4 separate regions of the Homo sapiens genome follow, and all the other regions are reported to be linked to region 1. Evidence: microRNA targets listed by miRTarBase, many of them from high-throughput screens and not tested one by one. Region 1 holds a microRNA gene; each other region holds the end of a gene's coding sequence. Distances are from middle to middle.
The links. The annotated mature microRNA hsa-miR-548ac reads CAAAAACCGGCAAUUACUUUUG and lies in region 1 at 3,060-3,081, opposite strand. An mRNA with a match to its seed (bases 2 to 7 or 8) in the 3' UTR can be bound and repressed. Matches are read on the target gene's strand: a 7mer-m8 pairs with bases 2 to 8, a 7mer-A1 pairs with bases 2 to 7 and ends in A, and an 8mer does both.

Region 1 (7,123 bases):
TGAAAGTTGGCAACTAATTCAAATCTGAGCTTAGGGGTAACCCCAGCCAGGCTAGCCCTATCAGGACAAGGACAAAGGTGTTCCTGTTTTTGGCTGTATCCCCATATGTCTGGCATATGGACTTTCAATAAATATCTGTTGAATGAATTAACTAAAATGATTAAAATACAACTTAAATGTAGTTCAAAAGATAAGGCTTCCTGACAGAATAGCAAAATTTGACAGTCACCCCAAACCCTGGGCTTTGTGAAATCCCAAATTGCTGTGGAACCTGGCTGAAGAAGGAGGACTTCGTAAGGAGAGATGGAGAAAGAAGTTTAACTGGAGCTTAAAAATAAAATGGCTCAGGAGCCCTCATATACAACCAAAACAGACTCAGTTTTTCAGCCCCACTTTCTGCCTCATCACCAAAGCAAGATGGGAGGACCTGCGGGCTCCACCTTCCCAACTCCACAGCTGTCCCTTTTGAGATGTTCCCTCTCAAGTTTAAGTAGATTTTACCAACTAAGTGTTATAGGATGCAGGGCACCACACCAGATAAACTTGTACCCACTCATGGATGTCAGCCCCAATCAAACTTAACAGCCTCGCTATGGTTTGAGGAGGTTCACTGATGTCATTTCTTTCTTTTCTTTCTTTTTATTTTTCTCTTTCTTTCCCTCTCTCTCTCCCTCCTTCCCTCCCCTTCCTTCCTTCCTTCCTTTTTCTTTTTGGAGACAGGGTCTCATTCTGTCACCCAGGTTGGTGTGCAGTGGTGCAATCGTGGCTCACTGTAGCTTCAACCTCCTGGGCTCAAGTGATCCTTCTGCCTCAGCCTCCCAAGTAGCTAGAACTACAGTTGCATGCCACCACGCCCAGCTAATTTTTATATTTTTTGTAGAAACAAGGTCTCACTATGTTGCTCAGGCTGATCTCAAACTCGTGGGCTCAAGTGATCCTCCTCCCTGGGCCTTCTGAAGTGCTGAGATTACAAGCATGAGCCACCATGCCCAGCCAATGCCATACCTTAGAGACAAGCTAATCACTCTTCCGGGATTTGAAGGAAAGGGTTTTCTTGAGTTTGTTCTTAGAAATAAACAATGTAATTTTAAGATACTTCTCTCTCTCTCTCTAAAATATTTTAAGGCTCACACTGCCTGCAGATTTTAGCAGGTAAAGTAAAAGTTCATTTGACCAAAAAAAAAAAAAAAAGAAAGAAAAAAGAAAAATTCCCTTAAAAGTTTCAGTACCTGAATATATGAATATTGGTATTTCCCTCTGAATATAAGACATCATAATGGTGATTCATTTAAAGCCTCGTGCAAGCCCAGAGATAGCAGGGTCTTGGGGCATTTTTGCTCCCAAGTGAGCAGATGGATTTCTCATCTGGATATGGGTCACTGAGCACAGCCTTGTCCCTCTCACTTCTCTGCGTTTGGTCTTCACATCACGGCACATTTTCAGTTGATGCCTACTTGCAGTATCAGGATGTGTGGCAATCTGGGAAGCAACATCTCTATCTACACACCCATATATGCATTTATAGTATTGAGGAGCGGCCAATCTCCTAAAATGTCTAGGCTAGTAATTGTATCAAATAACCTGTCCTATTAAGGCCATAAATATTCTCATATTAGTCAGTCCCAATTTTGGGGGTAGAAAATGTGCTTACCAGGCATGGAGATAATAAAGAGGAGTAGCACTGTTTGTTTTAACTCAATCAAGTTTCATACAGTTGTGACTCTTGCCTAGCTCTTAGCAAGTCCAATCCAAGGAGCCCTAGGCCAGCTCAGCCTCAGTAATAATATTTAACAGTAGCAGCAGCACGAAGATTCACTGCAGGCTTACTATGTGACAAGCACTTGTTCCAAGAGCTGTTTGTGTATTAACTCATTTAATCCTCAACTCAACTCTGAGGTAGTTCTTATTATTCATTTATTTGTTCATCAAATGTTCATGGAGTCCTGCCTATGTGCCAGACACTGAAATAAGCAGGCAGGATATAGCAATGAACAAAACAGACAAAATCCCAGCCCTCTTGGAGTCTATTTTTCAGTGGAGGGAAGAACATAATAAATGAAAAAGTAAATATCTTTTATTTGGATGATGTTGGATGATGTTAAGTGCTATAGAGAAAAATAAAGCAGAGTGTGGGGGCTGAGGAGTACTGGTAAGGAAAGGAGTTGGATGGCATGGGGGGCAGTCATAAGTTGGCATCTGAGCAGAGTCCAGAAAAGCAGGGGAGCGAGCCTAAGAACATCTGGGGTGAGAGTGAGAAAGGAGTTATTTCTTGAGAACACGCCTATCAAAGTAAGGTGGTTTGCTCCGCTGGACACTTGGTTGATAGAGAAGGTCAAAGATTCCGAAGCACCAGGCTACAGATGAAGAAATGGACTGAGAGGGTCAGCTGACTGCATTCACTCAGCTAGCAAGGGGCAGAGCTGGTGTCCAGACACAGGCAGTCGGCCCCAGAGCCTGCACTGTTGGCCAGAACATCAGATGCCTTGGTTGGGGCCATTCCTCTTTTTTCCTGATCGATTCCACCCTTAGCCGGTCCCAGTTAGTGACTTCTCTTATTTCCTTAAGACAGAGATTTACTGATTTCAGCCACACCACCACCAGTTTCCCTGCCCTCATCTACTTCATACTGAAACTGCAGCCACCTGTCTCCCAACGGTTACAAACCCTCGGTCCCCAAGGCCAGAGCAAGGTTCCCGGACCTTGCTCTCAGCTGTCAATCTGCCTCCTCGATAAGTTCATCAAGAATTAAGATGTTGGTTCTCTAAATCAACTTCTTTCTGTACTTTCCTTCTAATATGATGCTAAAATAGTTTCCTTTTTAATTCTTGTTCTTGCACTTAACCTATTTCTTCTTTCTCAAGATGTTTCCCTTTAGACCTATGCAATCCATCAAAGTAGCTACCAGCTACAAGTGGCTAGTGAGAACCTGAAATATGGTTAGTTCAAATGGAGATGTGTTCTGAGTATCAAATACACACCAGAATCTGAAGACCTGGTATTAAAAAGTGGAACATAAAATCTCTTGTTAATATTTTTTTGTAGTAACTACTAGGTTAGTGCAAAAGTAATTGCCGGTTTTTGCCATTAAAAAAAAATAGCAAAAACCACAATAACTTTTGCACCAACCTAATACATGTCGAAATGAAAATATTATGGATATATTAGGTTAACTAAAATATATTATTAAAATTAATTTCACATGTTCCATATTATACTTCTATTTGAGAGCACTTCTTTAGCCTGTTGTTTCAAGACACTCACATCCCACCTTTCTCAAAGGCCACATTTGTCTTTGACTGTTCTCACCTTAGATAGGATACAGCTGAGATCCACAGTATGCTTTAGGGAATAAGGTTCTTACTAGATCGGTTAAGGCTGTGAGTGTTTTTAAATCTATTCTCCAAAGTCTGATTCAAGGTATTTCAATACAGTACTGATCATTTCACTAAAATTCCTTGAGAATCCTTGTTATTTTCTAGATACTCAGTTCATCGTTGGGAAACTCTATTGCAAGTAGTTTACAATGGCACAGCCTCATTAGTTTCTTATTAATCTGATTTTTTATTTTTTTCTGAATGTGTATGTTAAACTTCAATTTTCTTCTAATTTTTAACTGGCATAGGAAGAAAATGTTCAAGAAACTACAGACTGGTCAGCCCAGTGGAAATTCAGGCACTAATCTCAACAGACATTTTGGGGAACATTGTAAAGTAAGCAAAGTTCACTAGAACCTATAAAGTAACCAAAAAGCATTTTCCTTGGAGGCTGATGGGCAGGCACTGAAAGTTATCTCCAAAGAGGAACTGCTAAAATGTTTTCCCCTCCTTTTCTAGGGACAGTCTCTGTATCTTATAGTCACACTTTATATTCAAACCTGAACTTATCTGAGAAAAGAGAAACGGCTGCATCCTGGTTTCACTTACAACCCTGAGATGGAAGTTGAGATTTGTCATTGCAGAATTTAAGGGTCTGTGTCCTTAAGTAAAACCTTCTGGTCACCCCTCAAGTAAAGCTTCAAAAAAGCTTAGGCACTTGTGCAGAAACAGCATGAGAAGAAACCAAAAGGCAGAAAACTTACACATATAAGGGCTGATTTATGCAAAGTTTCTACTTTTAAACAGAGAAACCAATACCTACCCTCAAAGCCTGTATTTACTAAAGAAATGTTAGAGTGACAAGGAGGTCAATAAAATAAATTATTCAAATCTGGTTCTTAAAAAGAGGTTCTAAGACTATTTTAAAACTTCTGAAAGATGCCCATCAAAATTAAAACAAAAAAACATAGCAACGAATACAATGAGTGAAACTTGATTAGATCCGGGTTTTTTAACAAAAGACACTCTTGTGACAAGTGGGGAAATCTGAATACGGGTAAAAGTTAGGTGATGTTACAGGATTAGTGTTAATATTTATAGATGTTATGATGTTATTGAGATTATGCAAAAGTGTCTAGGAGTGAAATGTGGGTACCTAGAGAATGTAAATATAATAATGTTAATAATAAATATGTCAATAAATTGCCATTGTAAATTCTATGTCCCAAAGAAGCACCCCTCACCATTACAAATTATGATATTAAATACAATTTTGCATGACTGGTAATTGTGCTGACCTATATTTCCCATGTTTTAGCAGAATTTCATTGGACAATGTATACATGTTGGATATAAGAAATCAGTAGTACTCATCTTCAAAAAGTTGCTTAGTGGATCTCAGGCTAGGGATACAACAGAGCATATAAAGGAATAGGTTCTGATTCAGAGAGAATCAAAGTTCAAGTTCACTCTGCCACTTATTTGCTGTGTGAACTTGGACACATTACTGAACCTACCTAAGCTTTGTTCTCCTATTAAATGTTCCCTATGTAATAAAATCAGTGTGACAATTAAATAAAAACATCTCAAATCTGAAGCATAGCTCCTGGCACAGAGCAGGTACTTACCTCCTAGTGGCTATTATTACTTACACTCTGTTATAACACTGGGCCTAGTTTTCCTATAGGAACACACAACACTATTTTAACTTGGATTATCTTTGCTAAATAAAAAAACACAGACTGTCTAAGTCTCAACTCCAGCAAAGCACATGAACAAGTCTCACATAATAATGTGAGATAATTTCAAATGGAGAAATGCTGGACAAATACATTGTCATCTAATGTTCAGATTCAACAATCTTTACTATTAAAAAAAAACAGATCAATATAAGGAAAATTTTAAAAAATAATACATGACTTCTGCATACAAGGAACTTAAAATCTAGTTATGCAGATAGTTGGCAATAAAGGATCTGTAAAATGTCAACAACAGCAGAATAAGACAGACTCTGTTAATAATAAAATAGTTCCTACCTTTTTATTTTTTATTTTTTTGCTCTGTTACCCAGGCTGGAATGCAGTTGTGTCATCATGGCTCACTGCAGCCTCAAATTCCCAGACTCAAGCAATTGCCAGGCTCATCTCAGCCTCCTGAGTAGCTGGGACTACAGGCGTGCACCACCACACCTGGCTAACTTTTTGTAGAGATGGGGTGTATTAGTCCATTCTCGCACTGCTAATAATGACATACATGAGACTGGGTAATTTATCAAGGAAAGAGGCTCAATGGACTCACAGTTCCACATGGCCAGGGAAACCTCACAATCATGGCAGAAGGCAAAGGAGAAGCAAAGTCATGTCTTAATGGTGGCAGGCAAGAGAGAGCGTGTGCAGGGGAACTCCCCTTTATGAAACCATCAGATCTTGTGAGACTTATTCACTATCACAAGAACAGTATAGAGGAAACTGCCCTCATGATTCAATTATCTCCACCTGGCCCTGCCCTTGACACACGGGGATTATTACAATTCAAGGTGAGATTTGGGTGGGGACACAGCCAAACCATATCATTCCACCCCGGCCCCTCCCAAATCTCATGTCCTCACATTTCAAAACACAATAATGCCCTTCCAACAGTCCCTCAAAATCTTAACTTATTCCAGCATTAATCCAAAAGTCTAAATCCAAAGTCTCATCGGAGATAAGGCAAGTACCTTCCACCTATGAGCCTGTAAAATCAAAGGCAAGTTAGTTACTTCCTAGATACAATGGGGGTACAGGTGCTGAGTAAATATATCCATTCCAAATGGGAGAAATTGTCCAAAACAAAAGGGCTACAGGCCCCATGCAAGTCCTAAATCCAATAGGGCAGTCTTAAACCTTAAAGTTCCAAAATGATCTCCTTTGACTCCATGCCTCACATCCAGGTGACGCAAGAGATGGGCTCCCACAACCTTGGGCAGCTCTTCCCCTGTGGCTTTGCAGGGTACAGCCATCCTCCTGGCTGCTTTCATGAGCTGGCATTAAGTGTCTGTGGCTTTTCCAGGTACACGGTGCAAGCTCTCGGTGGATCTACCATTCCGGGGTCTGGTGGATGATGGCCCTCTTCTCACAGCTCCACTAGGCGGTGCCCCAGTGGGGACTCTGTGTGGGGGCTCCAACTCCACATTTCCCTTCCACACTGCCCTAGCAGAGGTTCTCCATGAGGGTCCCACTCCTGCAGCAAACTTCTGCCTGGACATCCAGGCATTTCCATACATCCTCTGAAATCTAGGCAGAGGTTCTCAAACCTCAATTCTTGACTTCTGTGCATCCACAGGCCCAACACCACATGTAAGCCACCAAGGCTTACCCTCTGAAGCAACAGCCTGAGTGGTATGTTGGCCCCTTTTAGCCATGGCTGGAGCTAAAACAGCTGGCATGCAGGGCTCCATGTTTGGAGGCTGCAAAGAGCAGGGGGGCCCTGGGTCCAGCCCATGAAACAATTTTTCCCTCCAAGGCCTCCAGGCCTGTGATAGGAGGGGCTGCCATGAAGGTTTCTGATATGCCCTGGAGACATTTTCCCCATTGTCTTCGTGATTAACATTTGGCTCCTCATTACTTAATGCAAATTTCTGCAGCTGGCTTGAATTTTTCCTCAGAAAAGGGGTTTTTCTTTTCTATTGCATCATTGGGCTGCAAATTTTTTGAACTTTTATGCCCTGCTATCCTTTTAAACATAAGTTCCAATTCCAAACCACATCTTTGTGAACATATAAAACTGAATGCTTTTAACAGCAACCAAGCCACCTCTTGAATGCTTTGCTG
Region 2 (7,123 bases), 69 Mb from region 1:
CTTAGTCATTTTTTTTTTCTCATTGCGTCCTTTCTCCCTATATCATGTTCCAGAGTTCCTTCTATTATCATGTCCTTCCTGTTTATAGAATTTCCTTTAGCCATTCTTTTTTGGGCAGGTCTGCCGGCAGCAAATTCTTCCCCCTTCATTACTGAAGGATACTTTTGCTAAGGTACCTGGATTAGCAGTTATCTTTCAGCACCTGGAAAATATTCTGCAACTTCTTTCTAGCCTCCATGCTTTCAGAATGAGAAGAAAGTATCTGTTGTTTAAGCTGTCTGGTCTATACCTTGTTATAGCAGCCTGAGCTAACACATTTATACTGTCTTTTATATTTTAACTATTCAGTTACCTTTTCCAGTGCTATTGCTTTGTGTGGATTCATGTTACTATCTAATCTTTCATTTCAGCCTAAAGAACTCCCGTTAGTATTTCTTGTGGTTAAGGTTTGCTAGTGATAGTCTTTGTTTTTGTTTATATGGGCATGTCTTACTAATTTCTCCGTTTTTGTGGAATAATTTTACTGATACAGATTTCTTGGCTATTTTTTTCTTTCAGTACTTGGGAATGTCATTCACTGCATCCTGGCCTCTGTGATAGCTTATTGTGAGAAGTGAGCTGTTAATCTTATTTAGGACCCCTTGTTTATGAATTGATTTTCTCATACTGTTCATAGTACTCTTAGTTTTGTGGATCTCTTTGAATTTATATGGTAGTTCGTTGAGCTTTTTAAATGTGCAGGTAATGTTTTTCATCAAATTTTTAAAGCTTTTGGCAATTATTTCTTCAAATATACACTTTCTGCCCCTTTCCCTCCTCTCCTTCTGGAACTCCAATTCTGGGTGCTAGTACAATTGATGGTGTCCTACATGTCTCTGAGGTTCCACTCTTTTTCACTCGTTTTTTAGACAGGATATTCTCAATTGGCCTGTCTTCGAGTTGATTATTTCTTCTACCAGTTCAAATCCACTGTTGAGACTCTAGTGAATTTTAAATTATGATTCTTTTATCTTTCAATCCACATTTCCATTTGGTTTGTTCGTAATTTATTGATATTTATTTGGTGAGACATTCCTCTCATATTTAGTTCAGACATGGTTTTTAGTTCTCTGAACATGTTTTTAAAAGCTGACAAAGTATTTGTCTAATTAGTCCAACATCTGGACTTCCTCACAGACACTTCTGTTTCTTTATAGGTCTTGTAATTTTCTGTTGAAAACTAGGCTTTTAAAATAGTCCCCCCTTTATCCTTGAGGGTATGTTCTAAGATCCCCCCACCCCGCCGTGGATCCTTGAATCCACAGGCTGTACCAAACCCTGTACTTCTTTTTTTCTACACCTACATATATGGTAAAGTTTATAAATTAGGCATGGTAAGAGATCAACAACTAATAATATACAATCATAATATACTGTTCACAATTTCATGAGATCTGTCTCAACTTTGACATAGAAAAAAGCTTTGTTCTTGTCATAGATCTTAGCAAATTCAGCATAATTTATGTTTTCTTTCCTTATTAAGTCAAGAACTCTTACCTTTTCACTTAAAGGAAGCAGTTTATGGCTTCTCTTTGGTATATCCAAATTGCCAACATCACTACCCTTGCAATGTGGGGCCATTAAGTAAAATGAACACAAACACTGCAATACCATGACAATCAATCTGGGAACCGTTAACAGGTACTAAGTGACTAATGAACGAGTAGCATATACAGCAAAGATATGCTGGACACGGGGATAATTCATGTCCCAAGTGGAACGGCACAAGATTTCCTCAGGCTACTCAGAACGGTGTACAGTTTAAAACTTATGAGTTATTTCCGGGATTTTCCATTTAGTATTTTCAGAGTGCAGTTGACCATGGGTAACAAACCACGAAGGCAAAACTGGATAATGGGGGAAGACTATAATACAATGTGGCAACTCTGGAAATGAGAATCCCTTTAGGTCCCCAGGGTTTGTTGTGTTTGCTGTTTAGTGGCCTTCTTTTGACTAACTCTGTAATGTTTGCATTCTCTGCTGTGACCACTGAAGTCTGCTTCATTAGCTTAGTGGTCAGCTAATAACTAGACAGATTTCCTTAAATGCTTTGAACCAGTAAGTCTCTGTCTTGCTAAAGTGCTCTGTCTGGGATATGCCTTCAAAACTCCAGCATGTAGTTTACAACTGTGGCTTACCTTTCACTTCCTGCTGGCACAGAGCCTCAGGGTCTGCTACAGGTGAGGTTAGTGCCTTATATTTTTTTCTTGGGCATGCCAACAGTCTTGCACAAATGTGTGGCCTTCGAGATTCCCAGGAACATAATGGAACTTTTCAAAGCCCTCTACATTTCCTACTTTTTAGTCAGCTGCTTTTTAGGCCCACATGCCTCAGGCAACTGCTGTGTTAAACAACGGCAGGAACGATTTTTTACAAACACCATGAAGATAGAGCTTTTTAAGCAAAGTGAGCTGAGTCCAGTCAAAGACACGCTCAGAGAAAAAGAGCTTTTCAGTGAGGTTCCAGAAAGGCCAAGAGTGATAATTCACTGGAGTGTGATTTTTGGGGAGTTTTGAGGCTATTTTGGGGGAAACTTAAACTTTTCTGAATAGAAATGGGAATTTAAGAGATGCCTTTTCTCACTTGGCATTTCAGTTACTTCACATTTAGTTATCCAAATCAGAATCCTGAGCCTTTGTCTTCTCAAATGTACACAAAGGAAATACTGTCTTCCTAAGGTTCAAAGGGTTAGAAATGATATAATGCAAAATTTATTACAAAGCTAAAGTAATCAAAATAGTGTAGTACTGGCATAAGGACAAACATATAGACCAATGGAATACAACATCCAGAAATAAACCCTCACATATGATTTAGAACAAGAGCACCAAGATCATTCAGTGGAGAAAAGGCTAAGAAAACTGGATATCCAAATACAAATGAACAAAGCTGGACACTGACCTTTCACCATATACAAAACTCACAATGGATCAAAGACTAAGAGCTAAAACTATAAAACTCTTAAAAGAGGAAAATCTTCATGACATTGGGTTTGGCAATCTTCTTGAATATGACACCAATAGCATAGCCAAAAGAAAAAAGACAGATACACTAGACTTCACCAAAATAAAAAAAATTCTGTACATCAAAGGACACTATCAAGGGAATCAAAAGAAAACCCAAAGAATGGGAGAAAATATTTGCAAATCATGTATCTGATAATGGATTACTAACTAGAATAAAGAATGCCCACAACTCAACAATAACAGAACCCAGTCAAAAATGGGTGAAGGACTTGAATACACATACACATTTCTCCACAGAAAATACACAAATGGCCAGCAAGTACAGAAAAAGATGCTCAGCATCACAAGCTGTTAGGGAAATGCAAATTAAAACCACAATGAAAGGAGACATCCAGTAAGACAGCTATCATAAGGATACCCATTAATATAGTTATTTTAAAAAGAAGAAAAGAAAATAACAAGTGTTACAGAGGATACGGAAAAGCCAGAACGCTTGTTCATTGGTGGCAGGAATGTAAAATAATGAAGCTGCTATGGAAAACAGTTTGGAGTCCCTCAAAAAATTAAACATAGAATTATCATATGATGCAGTAATTCTATTCCTTCATATATACCCAAAATAACAGAAGGCAGAACTCAATTATATACTTCTATAATAATGTTCACTGCAGTATTATTCACAATACCAAAAGTCTCCATCAACAGATGAATGGATAAACAAAATGTGGCACATACATACAATATTATTCAGCCATAAATAGGAATGAAATTCTGATATATGCTATCACATGAACCTTGAAAATAATGTGTGATTCCACAGGTGCCATGAGGCACCTAAAATAGACAAATTCAAAAAGAGAAAGTAGAATAGAGGTTGCTAGGGGTTAAGAAGAAGAGAAATGCATTACTTTAATTGCACACAGAGTTTCTGTTTGGGGTGATGAAAAAGTTTTACAAGTAGACAGCGGTGATCATTACACAACATTGTGAATGTACCTAACCCCACTGAATTACATGCCTTAAAATGGTTAAAACTGTAAATGTGGCTATGTATATGTTACCATAAAAAAATTTAGAACTAAGTACCCAAAGCCTTCACACCACTTGTGGTGAGCCTTTTCTTCCTCAGTTGAGATAGTGATAAAAGAAATTACTTAGGTAATACTTTTTGAAACCCTGGTTGGTAGTGATGGCCAATAGCATCGCCTCTCCCCGTACCCCAAAACACACATCCACACACACACAAAATACACTCAATACCCTATCAAATACCTAGAATTATATTTCACAAAGGATTACACAACCAATAATTTCACTAATGATGCAGTTTATATCCTCCCATACTGACAGATAAAAACACATACATTCTCTAAGCACAAAGCTTATAGTCACAAATAACTCTCTGCTTAAAGACAAAATTTCAATTAATCACAATGGGAATTTAGTTATTTAATGCAACTACTAATCTAATGTCATCAACAAAATCTAAGCAGTTTTATCACAAAACCAGGGTTATATTCAGTGGGCATGCATTAATAATCTATACAACTTTAACATTACACCAGAAAAGGAATTGAATATATAAAAGTTCCCTTGATTTTTGGTGGTTTTCAAATTTCATGGCACAGATTACAAAAAAAAAAAAAAAAAAAAAACCCTGTAAAAACAGATTTTAAATATTTTCCATAAAATGGTAAAAAATTGAATATATACCTTTAAGTTTTCATACCGGGCTGAAGATTTAAAACATCAAGCTGGCCCCAATCTGTCAAAACTGACAGATAAATATTTACAATGACTAGACAGACTTTAGTTACAAAGGTACTGGAGGTCTACACCCTATTGAAAACCCTTTAGGGTTAATTTCTCAATGCAAACATGTCTTTTTAAATACTGTGATATATAAAGTTGGAAATATACCTAGAGTCTGGAGAGAGATGAAATATAACACCCAAGTCAATCTTATTTCTGATCTGTCAACAAAGCTTTCTGGCTCCCAAACACCCAATATTGTTCCTCAATATAAAAATTAAGAACAGTAGAATGACTTTACCCTACTGGCTGACGTTTTTCTACAGAATTATCTTTCACTACATATTAAAGCAGGGCTCAAGCTCTATTAACCTTCTACAGAGTGTAATTAAAAGAGCGCCAAATTTATAAACTGATGTGGCAACCCAAAATGATATAATTTTCCAATGGAAACAAACTTTTTTCCATTGTTCTGTGTGCCATGTTATTCTTGAAACTTATGTGGCTACAAATAAGAAAAAAATTAGGGAAGCTTTGAACATATCTTGTACTTTTCATCAAGGCTAAAGTGCAAAATATCTCCATTATCTCTGGTATTTTAATGGGGAAAAACATCACATATAATACAGGAAATGAAGTGACAGCAGAACTAATACAAAAAAAAGCACTCTCAAACGTATACTTGAAGACTATATTTTACTACCAATTTAATTTTTCTTTCTTCAGCAGAATATGTCAATGAACCAAGTTCTCATAGAACTTAAGATTTTGTTTGATTCTTCCCAGGACCAGAAATTCCAAAATTACAGGGAAAAAGAATGGAAAAAAAAAAACATTGCATGACAATGGACACTAAGTTCATAAAGAACTTCTTTTTAAAATGAGATATTATGGAAGAAAATACCATGAAAAGAATAATCCTATGAGAATTGTTTTTAAGGACAGTAAATTTGAGCCTTGGGTCTTCATGAAGATACTACAGTTTATATAGAAAACTATAAATATACAAGACTCCGGGGGAAAAAAAAAGTCAGAATACATAATATTTAACATTCTGTATGACTAAAAATCTTTTGAGGGGAGCAGGAAAAGGACAGCCAACTGAATCTTATAAGAATACAGAAACTATGAAAAATTCCTGGGTCAAAATGGTGCTCCAAGTGGAAACACACTTTGTGGGGAAAAAAAAAAACACAAGAAACTTCAGATATATTTTTTTAAAGGAAAGAAAAAAATACTGAATAATTGCAGTCCCTTCCAAAAAGGAAATCTTAAATAAAGGGGAAAAGATTTGAATAGCGTAAACTAGTCTGGCTCAGAAAGAAAATTGAACAACATATCCAAGATCTGTCCATAAAAGTAATGCCAGTACATCTTTAATATTAAAGAAATAGGCTATAAAAAAGTTCAGTCTCAGAATTGGTTTTTAAAGGCTCATTTGTGCTCCTTTGTAGGTGCGTAATAAAGTTCCATGGGTTTGTTCACTTTCCAGTATTTCTCACTGACCAATTCCAAAGAAAAAGAGCCATTTAATACCTAAAACAAAAAAGAAAGAAAAAATTATGAAAACTGCACAAACCACAATAATAATGAAATGAAACTAAAATGGAAGTCCACAGAATCTTTTTTTTTCAAATCTTAGGAATAACTACTTGTCACTTAACACTGTTACGGTTTTTTACATTATTTATTAGATTCTACCCCACCACTTGCCACTCAGTTAGTTGGTCAGTGTGCTCCCAGTTTCAACAGTCTATTATTTTAAATACTCACAGTGAACTGGCCACTGGCTGTTGCTATATAAATGGTATACTGCTTCTCACTGGCTGTATCAAGGTTCATCTGGTTTGATTCACCTTTGCTTCGAAGTTCTTCTAAAGCTAACCTCACAGCCAGATACTTGGATAAGTGATCAACAGTGGCGTTACCAGAAGTCTTTATGTATCTAGAAGAATAAATCATTAAAAATTTCATTTCTAGAATATGCCAATGAGAAAAATGTACTTAAATTATGGAACTAATACATTTCTTAAAAACTAAGTAAAATGGCAATGTCTCAATTATTGACAAAATAATATCAGAAATTTACTGCTCTACAATCTAAATTTCTTATTGATAGGTACAGAAGAGGGGAAAGTAAATACTCAATATCTTACTGTCAGGTCACAAAAGCTTTACCTACCTTACCTTCTATAAAATGAGATACACAGTGACAAAAATCAAACAGAAATACACAAAGTACTAAGGGGAAAAAAAGGAACATACCCCCCAAACCCTAATGACCAGAATCTGCTGGCTATAGCAGCAACAGAAACAGAATAGAAGCAAATTTCTTATTGTCTAAGAATTAAAATGTCTTTTAAGAC
Region 3 (7,123 bases), not on the chromosome of region 1:
TGCAAGACCAACGTGACTAAATGGTCAAATTCTGTTTTCTACGGTAGAGACACAGAATTTGACCATTATTAGATCATTATTGCGAAGATTATTATTGTGAAGCAGGACAGTCAAGAGTGTTCTTATGAGGCAGGGCAGCATCTACACGATAGGTATGTAGTTCATGTATGTGGTGTCTACATATGCTTTGGTAAAATGAAGCTCTGTTGATGAGACAGCCACATATTACATTTCATCATTCTCAGGGATCCCACAGAGGCTGATGTTGTACAGCTTTCAGGATCACTCGAACCCTAGGCAGCGGTCTGAGGAGCTTCCAGCCACCTCTTAGTGAGAGCCTCAGGTGTGAGGACCAAGCGTTAGGATCCGCCCTTTTTTTTTTTTTTTGAGACAGGGTCTTGCTCTGTCACCCCGGCTGGAGTGGAGTCGTCCGATCACAGCTCACTGCAACCTCGACTTCCTGGGCTCAAATGATCCTCCCACCTCAGCCTCCTGAGTAGCTGGGAGCACAGATGTGTGCCACCACACTCTGGGCTAATTTTTCTACTTTTTTGTAGAGATGGAGTCTCAGTATATTGCCCAGGCTGGCCTTTTTTTCTTTTTTAAAATACTGTCATCCTGACTTGTTGAAACAAACCCTTTTCCTATTTCCATATTAATTTGTAGGGTTGATAAGTGCAATGTTCAATCACAATTCCTCTGGTTTTGTTTTTGGGCAGTGACTTGCATCTCCCCTCCCTCATTTTCATTCATTGAAAAGTTCTCAAGTGGCTGCAGCTAAAATCAGACACTTAAAATTAATGCAAGATTAAGATTCCAGGTGATGGCTTCTTCATGAGTCCATTTAAAAGTCTTCGTTGCAATAAAAAAAAAACACCACAAAACAAAAAACAGTGAAATCCAATAGGATGGTAAGCTAATAGGTCACGGAGTGGCGGGGGGGTGTCTTTTTATCCCCCGGGTTGGGCCTCAAGCAATAATTTTTGTGGGAGACAGGACAGGTATAGGCATGGAAAACCAATGTGAAAACCTGTGGTTCATATTCCCCGTGGTTGTGCTCTGGGCAAATGTTTGAGGAATGTCATTTGTTTCTGTTGTTGTTCTCAACTGATTTAGGAGAAAAAAGGCACTGATCCAGGAGCACACATTTTCTACCAGCTCTGAATAGTTTAAATTCCAAATAAAAACTCACATCCAGTGTGTTTATTACTTAATTTTAGGTCATGTTTAATTGAAAACACTCCATCAGCCTTTTGAAAGTAAATTTTGAGATCCAGCCAGTGGGGCTGATGATTTCCAGACAGCCTGGACAGCTGAGATTCGGAGCTCAGCTCACACGAAGAGGCAGACGATCAGCTGTGTTCGTGAGCAGTGCAGGTGTGCAGCTGTGAGACGGTCAGCTGTGCTCGTGAGCGGTGCAGGTGTGCAGCTGTGAGACGGTCAGCTGTGTTTGTGAGCGGTGCAGGTGTGCAGCTGTGAGGACATTCCAGGGTCATCATTACCAGCTGTGACCTTGTGCCCCTGACTCCCCGTCTTGGGTTCCTTTTCTTTAAATATGACTCATCAAATGAAAACCTCTCAGTGTTGTTGTGAGGATTAAGCCAAACAGTGCAAACAAAAGGCTTAGCACAGTACAGCGGTTTACAGTCAATGCTTTCAATGGCGCTAGCTGTGAACATTTGGTAACTGTAACCAGTTAACTTTCAGGGCTAGATATGACAACACATCCTGCAAATTCCTCCATTTTAATCTAATCAAAATATATAATGTGCAAAATACAAAATAAAAGAGGAACACAGTGTCTGCTTGGGAAGGCTTCCATTTACAAACAGCATGTTGAAAAAGTTCACTTTTGTTTGGAGGACTCTATGTTCCCATAGCAACAGTGCTCTAAGTGTGTGTGTGTGGGGCTTAAATTCCAAGGACTCACAAGGGCAAATTAACTCTTAGTTACGTGAAATATTGTGTTAGTCCTGATAGGGTTAAACAATGACTGTACTTGTAGTGAAACAAAGAAAAAATTGATATGAAAATAAGATTGAAATATTTTAAAATCCTGTGGCTCAAAGGAAAGCAGGATGAACTAGGGGCCAAATGAAGAAGCTGTGGGGCCTTGGGGTTTGAGACAGGGCACTTAATTAAATGTAACGCTGTTTTCCTTGGTGCGAGGGCCCCCATACTCATCTGTATTGTTCAGCCCTCAAGAGAATCTTCACTGGCTGGTAAACGAACAAGAATAGCTGGAGAAGGAATACTTCATATAGTATAAAAAAGACCCTTGGACAGGCATGGTGGCTCCAGCCTGTAATCCCAGCACTTTGGGAGGCTGAGACAGGACTGCTTGAGCCTAGGAGTTCTAGACCAGCCTGGGCAACACAGCAAGACCCAGGTGCGGTGGCACGAACCTGTAATATTAGCTACTTGGGAGGCTGAGGCAGGAGGACTGCCTGAGCCCAGGAGCTTCAGGCTCCAAGTGAGCTATGACTGTGCCACTGCACTCCAGCCTGGGCAACAGAGCGAGACCTCGAAAACTAGCAGGTGAGCAGGTTAAAGCTGAGTTCTCTGCTCTACTTTCAGAGTCTTTAATATGCTAATTTCTTCATGAGGTTCACAGAATGTCGTCTAAACCCAAGTGACCATAACCCCTTCCTTCCTGCAGCATCTCCAGGGGCAAGAGTTCTGGGAACACACCTGAGACAAGTCTCCTGCAATGCCAGTCTTGGCAAGCCCTCCTCCCGCTCCTCAGCTTCCCCTTCCAGCAGGCAACCTCCCCCAACACCCCCTCTCCTGCTTTGCCTTGGGCTACTTGTACTTAATCCGTCCAGAGGTTTTAGTTGATACTCTAATGTGATTTCTGCATTTCCATCTGAAAACCAAACAGATTTTTGACACAAAGGAAGCTTCATAGCAGGATTTCAGGCACCTTTATTCATGGCAGATATTTTTGGTCAGGGCAGCCTGCCTTTGAAATCGTTCCATTACTTGAGGAGGTCGACTCCTGCCTAAGTCACAACTCTCCTACAACCGCAACCGGCCATATCATTTCCATTTGCCACTTCCGAGGCTTGAGAACATCACCAGGGACGCAGGTTTCGGATGGTCTGGTCAATGCTGCAGTGTGTGTGGGGCATTCGGGGGCTCCAGCCTGCATCACAACCTACTGGCCTGATCAAAGGAGGTTCTGTAGTTGGGTAACCAGAGTGGTGAATTCATTTTATCACAGAAGGATCTCACTCCTTTATGTTCCCCATGTAATTTGTATACAGCACAAATTATTTCTTACTTTGATAGATTTGCAATATAAACACCAAGACTGGTGAGATGAGAAACTTAAAAAAATCATGTTTTTCAAATTTTCAAGTTTTTGTGTAAAAGCACTTTGTGGTGACAATCATATGGATCACCTTCCAGGTCATCAGTATTGGCCTCTAGGTTTAGCACTCCTGGCACTGCATTTTTGAGTGGCCAGAGATAAAGGTATTATCCCTGTCTTCTATAATCAATGATAACATTGACACTCTGCAAGAATTTAGATAAGAAACAGTTTAAGTAAAATAGTGTTTTTTAAAAACTTGAGTCTACTACAAGTCGTTGATCATATTCTAGCCAAGCAACTGGCATGGACTTAATATGGTCTCTTTTCCTTCTCTCTTTCTTTTCAAGTCACTAGCTCAAAGGAAAGACTGATTGAGTTTTAAAATCCTGCCAGATTTTTTATGGTAACCATTGTAGATGAACCACGTAGGTAGGGTCCTACTGAAGTATTAGAATCTCATGCAAAACTCTAACAAACGCCTCATTACAGAAGGCTATTCTGTTATTTTCTGTACTGTAAAAGTTCTGACACAAGACAGTGGCAGTGGTTACTTTTCATCGACTTTAGCATGTGATCTCAGGGACTCAGACATACGTCTAAGTTCTATTCTGAGTTTTGGCAACAGAGCAGTGACAGATATTTCTGAATGAACAATTTTTAGGTGTTTTCAGCCATTTGAAAAGTATTGCCAACACACTATTTGGTGTTAGCTCAACAGTCACGTTGTGCCAAGAATTAAAGAACTCTAAAGTCTACAAACATCTTACTTCACCAAGACTAACTATAATTGAAGGGTTTACTATTTGTTTAATAAAAAATCACACATCAACTTTTATCCAAACAGCAACTACTACAAAAGGAATGACAAGAAAAAAAATGACTTCACAGAAATACACTAAAAAATCTGACAATGTTATGCAAGAACCGCCAAAGTTTTAGTGTTTAATAATGAATAGCACAACTGACCAAGGTCCAAGATGTGAAGATACCATGTTCAAGAAACTGGGGGGAAATCACTCTACAAACTAACTATATACTAGGTGATAAGAATGCATACTTTATAATATAAAACCTGTCTACACATAGTAGTTAGCTGCAAAAAGCCATTCGATCTTCTCTTGGCTTGGAAAAATGCCAGATTCCAGTATAAATTATTAGCAACCTGTTGAAGAAGGAAAAATCATCAACATGTTTTTCATTATATGAGCACAAGTAAAAATGACATATAGACCTATCAACTACAAATCCCTTTCCACTCTCCTACTGAGTTAAACTTATTTTCTTCTGGCAATATTTTAGCAATAGATTTAACTGGAAATATCTTTAAAAGTTTCAGAGTCAGTTTCCTACTCCCACTCTTTTCTTTGAATGACCCCCATCACTAGCCAGTCTACCATCCTGAAATTCTTGTGGTAAGATAATCAGTCAGTTGATGGCAGTTTTGATTGCCACATAATATAAAAAGAGACCCACAGAAGCATCTGAGACTGGTAGGACATTTTTCCAAATTATCTCTGGATAAGAATAACGATGACATAACCCATAGAAAGCAGTTATGTGATTTACTCACACAGTGAATGAACCCCACCTACTGTGAAGATAAAAGCAAATTTTAGAGTCTGTCTTCAACATCCCAAATCTGTATTTCACAGTGACTTAAAATGTGGTCCACAGCAAGCCCAGAAAATAGGAAATTAGGCATGTTTTACTGTACATTCTGCTTAGTACTCTACGAATCTAAAAATACTCAGGAACCATTTTATTTTATTTTTTTGAGACAGAGTCTTGCTCTGTCTCCCAGGCTGGAGTGCAGTGGCATCATCACGACTCACTGCAAACTCTGCCTCCTGTCTCAGTCTGCCAAGTAGCTGGGATTACAGGCGTGCACCACCACACCCAGCTAATTTTTGTACAGACAGGGTTTCACCATGTTGGCCAGGTTGGTCTCGAGCTCCTCACATCAACTGATCTGCCCTCTGCCTGCCTTTGCCTCCCAAAGTGCTGGGATTACAGGCATGAGTCACCACGCACCAGTACCTTTTTTTTTTTTTTTTTTTTTTTGAGACAGAGTCTCACTCTGTCGCCCAGGCTGGAGTGCAGTGGCGTGACCTCGACTGCAACCTCCGCCTCCCTCAGCAACATTCATTTTTATAGAGAATTAAAATGTTATAAATGAAACAAGAGAAAAGTGAGTCTAAAACTTATTTTTCACACATACAGAGGAAAAGGATCACCATGCACTCTGCTGAGTGATTCTGTACATTTACCTATCTTGCTGTGTAGGTACTTTGAATTACTAGGCTTTCCTCTGACATCTGAAACTATTCAGAGGAAATTTAAATGAACTCCAGGGTAAAAGCTTAATGTGGCCACAATCTAGTTCACCTATGTCAAGTTACCAAGAAAGTCTCCAGAATTTAAGCCATTTAAGAAGGTGGTAATGTGGGTGACTTATCAGTTATTTCCATAAAAAAAAAAAAAAGCAATGGAAAATCTTCCAGTGACAGGCTTTATAGGCCAACAAAAAGACACCTTAATTATTAGCTGGAATGATAAAAACTCAGTGGTTATCTAATGTTAGCCAGTGGTCTTCACTAATAGTGACAGAAGTCTAATTAATAAAAACTGGGAAAATAAATTCGGTGTAAAGAATGAGTTTGGCATGAAAAATTTCAAAACATCAAGTCCACAGCAGGTAAACAATACAGTGATGCTTGCTGGGATCATGGCTGGGAACTGATCTACAGAATGTCTGACTACATACAAATTATACTTACAGGTTCTCTCTATTCTTTTAAGACAAAATAAAAAAAAAGACCGGGCACGGCGGCTCACACCTGTAATCCCAGCACTTTGAGAGGCTGAGGCGGGCAAATCACTCAAGGTCAGAATTCGAGACCAGCATGACCAACATGGAGAAACCCCGTCTCTACTAAAAATACAAAATTGGCTGGGTGTGGTGGCACAAGCCTGTAATCCCAGCTACTCGGGAGGCTGAGGCAGGACAATCGTTTGAACCCAGGAGGGCAAAGGTTGCAGGGAGCCGAGATCGTGCCATTGCACTCCAGCCTGGGCAACAAGAGCAAAACTCCGTGTCAAAAAAAAAAAAAAAAAAAAAAAGAAAAGAAAAGAAAAAAAAAATTGCCCCCTTCCTCACCTTCAACTCTTTTGCGTGGCAGGTATCTTGTTTTCACTTTCCAGTTCTTCCACCCCAGCCTGTGTCATGAGGTCCGCGATATTCTTTTCCAGATCATCAATGCGACTACTCATATCATCAAGTGCTGAAGTTAAAGACAACGCGTGCCAACATCTCATTGAGCCTTTTTCCTCCCGTCCCTGCAGACTACAGCCTTAAACACAACGACTTTAGGGAAACTGGTCTTCCAATTTTCTTTCGACACTGTTACACGCTGGTGGGTAAGAGTACAGGACTGTGGGGCATGGCTACCCCGCATCGGATTCCAGCCCTGACCCTTACTAGTGATGGAACCCCTAAACCTCAATTTATTCATTTGCTAAAGATGATAACACTACAACCCACTCATAAGGTCATGCTGAGCATCAAAAGACACACACAAAAGCGCTTAGTTCACAGTGCATGGTCCACCACACCAGCTATTAGGATTGGTAGACGTATGCTCCTTGAGCCAGGAGTCTAACTCAGCTTTGCCCCTAGCTCTCGGCGCAGTCCTTCTCAGAAACACAGTACAATCCAAGCTCAAATTCTACAAGTGAATGGCTGAAGCTAGCCTGAAAACTACTCATTTATCCCCACCACTGCCCGGCAAATAGGCTCCAAAGGCCCAC
Region 4 (7,123 bases), not on the chromosome of region 1:
TGGCAGGGCCTGCACAGCCAGGCCAAGGAGCAGGGCAGCAGGTAAGTCATGCAAGGTTGGAAGGGGCAGAACTCCCAGAGGCCAGAGTGGAGGCAGGAAAGGGAGTCAGTCTCACGCGTGACCTCAGATGCCAAGACTTGCTTGCTGGACTTTGGAAATATCCTGTTGGGGCCGGGCGTGGTGGCTCATGCCTGTAATCCCAGCACTTTGGGAGGCCGAGGCGGGCGGATCACGAGGTCAGGAGATTGAGACCATCCTGGCTAACACAGTGAAACCCCGTCTCTACTAAAAATACAAAAAAATTAGCCAGGCATGGTGGCAGGCGCCTGTAATCCCAGCTACTCGAGAGGCTGAGGCAGGAGAATGGTGTGAACCCTGGAGGCAGAGCTTGCGGTGAGCCGAGATCGCGCCACTGCACTCCAGTCTGGGCGACAGAGCAAGACTCCATATCAAAAAAAAAAAAAAAAAAAAAAATTCAAAACATTAGCTGGACGTGGTGGCGGGTGCCTGTAGTCCCAGCTACTCGGGAGGTTGAGGCAGGAGAATGGCGTGAACCCCAGAGGCGGAGCTTGCAGTGAGCCGAGGTCGCGCCACTGCACTCCAGCCTGGGTGACAGAGTGAGACTCCATCTCATTTAAAAAAAAAAAAAAAAAAGACACAAAATATCCTGTTGGCTCAAGGAGGGCATGGAGGTGCTTAGATGAGATAAGGAGTTATTACTAATTTTGTTAGGTGTGACAATGACATAGTAGTTTTGTAACTACTGTCATTACTATATCAAGTACTATATCAATAATGATAAGGTCTTTATCATTTGGAACTTGTAGGTGACATGACATGAGAATTGCCTTAAAATACTCAAGGAAAAAAATCCTACTGCTGGGTGTGGGAGGTGCTTGATGAAATGAGATCTGCAAATTGTTAATAGTGATTCCTGAGTGAGCACATGTGAGTTCATTACATTCCTTCTACATTTGTTTTTTGTTTGTTTGTGTGTTTGAGACAGGGTTTCTCACTCTGTTGCCCAGGCTGGAGGGCAGTGGTATGATCATGGCTTACTGCAGCCTTGACTCCCAGGCTCAAGTGATCCTCTGACCTCAGCCCCCCAAGTAGCTGGGACTACAGGAACGTACTACCACACCTGGCTAATTTTTTATTTTTTGTAGAGATAGGGTCCCACTATATTGCCCAGGCTGATTGCAAACTCCCCACCTCAAGCAATCCTCCTGATCTCGGCTCACTGTAACCTCCACCTCCCAGGTTCAAGTGATTCTCGTGCCTCAGCCACTGGAGTAGCTGGGATTACAGGTGTGTGCCACCACACCCAGCTAATTTTTGTATTTTTTGTACCATGTTAGCCGGGCTAGTCTTGAACTCCTGGCCTCAAGTGATCTACCTGCCTCAGCCTCCCTAAGTGTTGGGATTACAGGCATGAGCCATTGTGCCCAGCCATCTTAAAACTTTTTAATGGAAACTTTCAATTATAAACAAATGTAGAGATAAGTAAATAACAATAATGGGCCAAGGATGGTGGTGCGCGCCTGTAATCCCAATCCCAGCTACTCGGGTGGCTGAGGCATGAGAATGACTTGAACTTGGAGGGTGGAGGTTGCAGTGACCTGAGATGGTGCCACTGCACTCCAGCCTGCGCAACAGAGCAAGACTCTGTCTCAAAAAAAAAAAAAAAAAAAAAGTTTAAGAAGTTTCTTTACTGCTTGGGTGATTAAAAAAAAAAATAGGTTACATTTTCTGCTATAGATTAGACATTATTGAAAAAGATGGACTGTGAAATGGTTGCTTTCAGAAAATGATTTTTTTAACTTGGCTTCTAAGGCAAGAAAAACTATTAATAGAAACATTATGAATTTAACTATTTTTCAGATACAGTACTGTAGTCTTGAAGAGAAAATTCAGTCTCCAACAGAAGAAACAGAAATCTTTTATCACAGAGGGGTGTAGGCGTGAGTTTTAGGTGAATTTATGTGGTTCCTGCTTGAAAACCTTCCCCTCTCCAGGTTCGGTTTAGAGAACTTTGCCACAGGTCTTCTGGGGACCCCAGAGGTGTCTGTGCTGACAAGGCGACTTCAGATTCCATACTGAGATCGTTCCCAGGCTGGCGTCTCTGGGGTTTTTAAGGCTGGCTGGAGAAGACAGTGGGAGGGTGCCCCGTCTGACACCCCTGGGGTTGCTGAGGGAACGGTTGGAGTGGGGATCGGCCTGCGAAAGGATACTGTGAAATCACTAATTAACTAATAAACCTGTCTCAAGTTGAGGATTTGAAGAAAGAACACAGAGTCCACCGTGCCCAGGACACAGGTGTTAAATGGATAGGCCGTCTCAAGCGGAACACGTACCCCTGGGGCGCTGTTTACGCCCTCCAACCCCAAAAGCAATCTTGTTTCCTTACTCAGTGTCCTCCATTCTAGACAGCTACTTAAAACCTTTGCCGCCCTCCGCCCAGTGCCTCCTTTCTCCTCTCTGGCAAAGGACCCTGCCTCCTCCGCCAGGAAACAGGTCAGCAGTGGAGCCCCCCACACCCGCACCCACACCCATCCTTCCTCCGTGTAATGCCAGCGTCCTCCAGGCTCTGGGCCTCTCTCTGCTTCCTCAGGGCTGTGCTCTGTAGCCTCTGTCTGCCAGGTCCTTCCCAGAAGTATGTAAACTACTTGTCGGCCAGGCGCGGTGGCTCACGCCTGTAATCCCAGCACTTTGGGAGGCTGAGGCCAGTGGATCGCCTGAGGTCAGTGGATCGCCTGAGGTCAGTGGATCACCTGAGGTCAGGAGTTCGAGACCAGCCTGGCCAACATGGTAAAACCCCGTGTCTACTAAAAATATAAAAATCAGCCAGGCGTGGTGTTGCGCACCTGTAGTCCAAGCCACTCAGGAGGCTGAGGCAGGAGAATCACTTGAACCCTGGTGGCGGAGGTTGCAGTGAGCTGACGTCATGCCATTGCACTCCAGCCTAGGCAATAGAACGACTGTGTCTCAAAAAGAAATAAACTGCTTGTCACCTGCCTCATTAGAGACAGGATCTTGCTGTCACCCAGGTTGGAGTGCACTGGCACAATCAGCTCACTGCAGCCTTGAACTCCTGGGCTCAATGAGGACCCACCTGCCTCAGCCTCCTGAGTGGCTGGGACTACAGGCGCCTGTCACCACGCCTGGCTGTAGCCAGACACTTTAAAAGAGTTGTCCGCCCTCACTGTCTCCACCCCACCTCCCGTTCTGCTAAGATTTCTCTCATCCGTGACCCACCTGAATGTGGCACTGCCACACTGCTGGGCACTCAGGCTGGTCACTGAGCTGCTTACTTGGCTGTACTTTGCCATTTGGATGTCCCAGACACCTCAAACTCAACCCATCCGAACCTGAGATCAGCTCTCCCTCCCAGTCTCAGGAATTGACACCACCACCTCCCCAGGTGCACCAGACAGGATCACTGGAGGCGCCCTCTCCCCACCTTACCAGCCTATGCAGTAGACAGGGCCCAGTACATGGAGTCTGGAACCCACATATGCCCACTGCTACCACCCAGCGCAGTCCAACAGCATCCCCTGCTGGCACTGCCTGGCCCATCTCCTGCCTACTCCCTCCGGTCCACGTTCCAGCCTGCTCTTCTAAACCACACCTGCTGAACAACTGTTTTTTTTTCTTTTGAGACGGAGTCTCACTCTGTCACCCAGGCTGGAGTGTAGAGTGCAGTGGCGCGATCTTGGCTCACTGCAACCTCCACCTCCTGGGTTCAAGTGATTCTTGTGCCTCAGCCTCCTGAGTAGCTGGGACTACAGGCATGTACCAGCCACCACGTCCAGCTAATTTTTGTTTTGCTTTTTTTAAGTAGAGATGGGGTTTCACCATGTTGGCCAGGCTGTCATCTCCTGTCCCCGCGATCCACCCACCTTGGCCTCTTTAAGTGCTGGGATTACAGGCCTGAGCACCGCACCGGGCCTGAAAAGCCTTAAATGGCTTCCCAGTGCGTCAAGATCAAGCCCACCTTCCTCACCACAGCAAGCCTTTCCCATACTCGTATCCTGCCACTCCCTCCCCTCCCTGTAGACCCTCCAGGTCCTCACATGGGCTGTGGTCTCTTCTCAGGGCCTTCACACAGCTGTTTCCTCTGGTCTGAGTAGATGTCTACTTAATGCTTCAGGCCTGACTTTGACATTGATCACTCCCTCTGGGAGGCCTTCCAGGATTGACAGCACTGAACTGGGTCCCCATCTATGTGCTCCAATACCACTCTGTTTCACACATCACGCCTAGCACTAGCCACACTACAGCAGCCTGTTTGCTGACCCTATTCCCCAAGCGGACTGTGCGCAGCACCGCGAGAGCGGGAGCTGCTGCCCATCAGGGTAGTTCAAAATACAACACAGGCATGGCACAGAGTAGGTACCTCAACATTTGAGTACTGGACTAATGCTTCCAACACACCCTACCCCACATTACCAAAGAATTTATCTGTGGTTTTGTTTCCCCAAGGCCAGTATGATGGTTCATTTCCAAATTTGGTGAGGAAAGTTTCATAACAGCCTAAAAGGACAAAATCAGTAAATGGCTCAGTTTGACCATAGGCTGACACTAACCAAAATTAAAGTTAGAGAACAAGATGGGCAACAGCTGCAGGTGGAGGTTTAACCGCTAACAGATGACAGAAATGTGAAGGCATCTTCCAAGGACAGGAGACTGAAGTTACAGAGGCAGCTCCAGGAAGGCGAGTGGAGGAGGGCTAGGGCGGGAGGAAAGGGTGTGTGGGGGACGGCTTGAACTTTTTTTTTTTTTTTTTTTTGAAACCAAGTCTCGCTCTTTTGTCCAGGCTGGAGTGCAATGGTGCAGTCTCGGCTCACTGCAACCTCCGCCTCCCTGGTTCGAGCAATTCTCCTGCCTCAGCCTCCCAAATAGCAAGTAGCTGGGATTACGGGCATGTGCCACCACACCCAGCTAATTTTTGTACTTTTAGTAGAGATGGGGTTTTACCACGTTGGCCAGGCTAGTCTCAAACTCCTGATCTCAGGTGATCCGCCCACCTCGGCCTCCCAAAGTGCTGGCATTACAGGCATGAGCCACCGCGCCCTTGGCCGTCTTGAACTTTCAGACAGGTCTTTTAATAATTCCCTAGCGCCCTCACAGTTGAAAAAAGGTATTTTTTCCCCATTTTCTTTGGAATGAGCAGTATTAGAGAAAGAGGGGACAATTCGTCACCCACCTAAAAGTAGTTGAATATCAAAATATATCAATTTTATTTCTGCATCATAAATTTATAATTTTAACAACTTTGATCATTAGCTAATATAGTAATACAAAAAAATGAGAAAAAAGATGTTAATATTCCTCATTTCCATAAAGTGCAGATTTAATTTTCAATTATTTGCCTTAGTAAACATTGTCTTATTTCAGGTACTCCCTGCCCTCACTCAAAAAAAAGGGAGGGTGTTTAATTTTTATTGAACAAATATGTAATACCAAGAAAAAGATGAAAGACCCAATAATGTTTTTTGCAAACATGTTTCCAGGTAAGATTTCCAAGGACATCAGTACTGAGTGAAAAATAATCCTTTACAGTCAATATGAATGAATACACTAACAAGTACATCATTTAGATCTCCATGCTTATTTGGCAATTCCAGTTATGAAAAAGGTACATAAATAGTACAAACAATTGGCTTGACATGTGGCCAAACTACTTTCATCGAAGTTGCTGGAAGCCTTTCTCTGGTTTTGGCCCCTGTAGGAAGTTAATCTCATATTCCCTTAGCAATAATATAAGGTCACTGTTTCAGTCCTACACACTTTTATATTCAATGGGCTTCTTAGTTTATCACATAAGGACTGGCACTTTTTTCAAAAGAATATTGCTAACAGGGTTAAATGAGTGCTAATGGCTGAACGTTTGCCAAATGCTTACTTCTGCGATAGTATAAATATGGATTATTAAAGTTGTCTACTCAAGTATAAAATATATGCAAAACTCTCATAGGCAAAATGTTCAAAGGCCGGGAAAAACCTTTTTTTTTTTTTTTTTTTTTTAACTTTTACGAGAAAGTGCAACTGCAGGGTCTCTTGAATGATCTTCTAGACAGTTCCGCAGAAAATTAGCAGTTTGGCTCAGAAAGTAGAGTTCCTCAGGAGGAATTAAAGTTCTTCCTAGAAGAATACAAAGCAACGTTTCAGGCAGCTTTCTGAAAATAAACCATTAGCTTATGCCTACACAGCGAGACAAACTGGAACGTGTAATAATGAAGGCTTTCACATTTGTTGTGATGTGCTTTTTTTCTCTTACCCCAGGACCTCTAGCTGTTCTGTAATGTTACATAAAGTAGTTATAGCACTTCGTCCAGCACTGACAGCAGGCAGGAAGCTAATCAGCGAGGAGAAAATCGGAAGTGTGTTCATGTGTTTCATTGTTTTTCAGGTCAAATCTCAATACTTGCAAATAAATCATTAAAAAGATATAACAGTTTCTCTGTTATTTTCAGGACTTCATGTAGTGAGTGGGTAATCAGAGTGAAAGAGGGCTTTCTATCAGTCATCAGTGATACGTTCTGTCACACAGTCAGATTTTCAGCATTTGTTCGGCTGCTGCTAGATGATAAAGGAAGTTTTCTGTTGCTGGTGGAAATCGTTTTTGCTTTAGCGCCTCCAAATTAAGGACTCTCTTTTCTCCATCAGCCGAAACTTCTGAAAACGGTGCTAGGTTGGTAAAGATTTCTCTTGTTTTTAGAGCAATATCCTTTAATAGAACAGGAAAATATATGCAACATGTTAGTATCCGAAATTTGAATATTTAGTCTCTAGAATTCTTCCTATTTTTTCCAGACTGTTTATAAACTATGAAAAATGAGCTTGGCGTGGTGGCTCATGCCTGTAATCCCAGCACTTTGGGAGACCGTGGCAGGAGAATGTCTTGAGTCAGGAGTTAGAGAATGCAGTGAGCCATGATTGCACCACTGCACTCCAGCCTGGGCAACCCTGTCTCAAAAACGAACAACAAAAAAGATAACTCCTTTTTTTGTTGTTGTTTTCGAGACAGGGTCTCGCTCTGTTACCCAGGTTGCAGTGCAGTGGTTCAATCATGGCTCACTGCAGCCTCGACCTCCCAGGCTCAAGTGATCTACCCACCTCA

Region 2: miRTarBase lists RNF2 as a target of hsa-miR-548ac. Seed matches in the 3' UTR shown: 7mer-A1 at 4,666-4,672, 7mer-m8 at 4,656-4,662 and 7mer-A1 at 4,357-4,363.
Region 3: the mRNA of HSBP1 is a reported target of hsa-miR-548ac. Seed matches in the 3' UTR shown: 7mer-A1 at 3,566-3,572 and 7mer-A1 at 1,182-1,188.
Region 4: miRTarBase lists DENND10 as a target of hsa-miR-548ac. Seed matches in the 3' UTR shown: 7mer-m8 at 5,999-6,005.

The regions. Positions count from the first base shown.
Region 1 is chr1:116,556,979-116,564,101 of GRCh38, forward strand. MIR548AC (microRNA 548ac) reads right to left here and starts at 3,133; the gene lies at 3,046-3,133. The region is part of intron 1 of CD58 (CD58 molecule); the gene reads right to left. It overlaps LOC105378925 (a long non-coding RNA gene), which reads left to right. Exons shown (of 3, transcript XR_947739.2): 3 at 1-4,209. RefSeq lists enhancers at 1,600-1,649, 2,701-2,940, 5,540-5,689.
Region 2 is chr1:185,099,370-185,106,492 of GRCh38, reverse strand. RNF2 (ring finger protein 2) reads right to left here. Exons shown (of 7, transcript NM_007212.4): 6 at 6,531-6,702; 7 at 3,890-6,293. The coding sequence ends at 6,192. Among named protein-coding and RNA genes, the nearest start is that of TRMT1L, 54 kb to the left of the region's middle.
Region 3 is chr16:83,808,776-83,815,898 of GRCh38, reverse strand. HSBP1 (heat shock factor binding protein 1) reads right to left here. Exons shown (of 4, transcript NM_001537.4): 3 at 6,474-6,594; 4 at 1-4,478. The coding sequence ends at 6,476. Among named protein-coding and RNA genes, the nearest start is that of HSBP1, 4.4 kb to the right of the region's middle. RefSeq lists enhancers at 1,436-1,947, 1,948-2,459, 2,460-2,971.
Region 4 is chr10:119,136,078-119,143,200 of GRCh38, reverse strand. DENND10 (DENN domain containing 10) reads right to left here. Exons shown (of 9, transcript NM_207009.4): 9 at 5,217-6,730. The coding sequence ends at 6,554. It overlaps SFXN4 (sideroflexin 4), which reads left to right. Exons shown (of 14, transcript NM_213649.2): 14 at 1,882-2,434. The coding sequence ends at 1,959. Among named protein-coding and RNA genes, the nearest start is that of SFXN4, 26 kb to the left of the region's middle. RefSeq lists an enhancer at 253-754.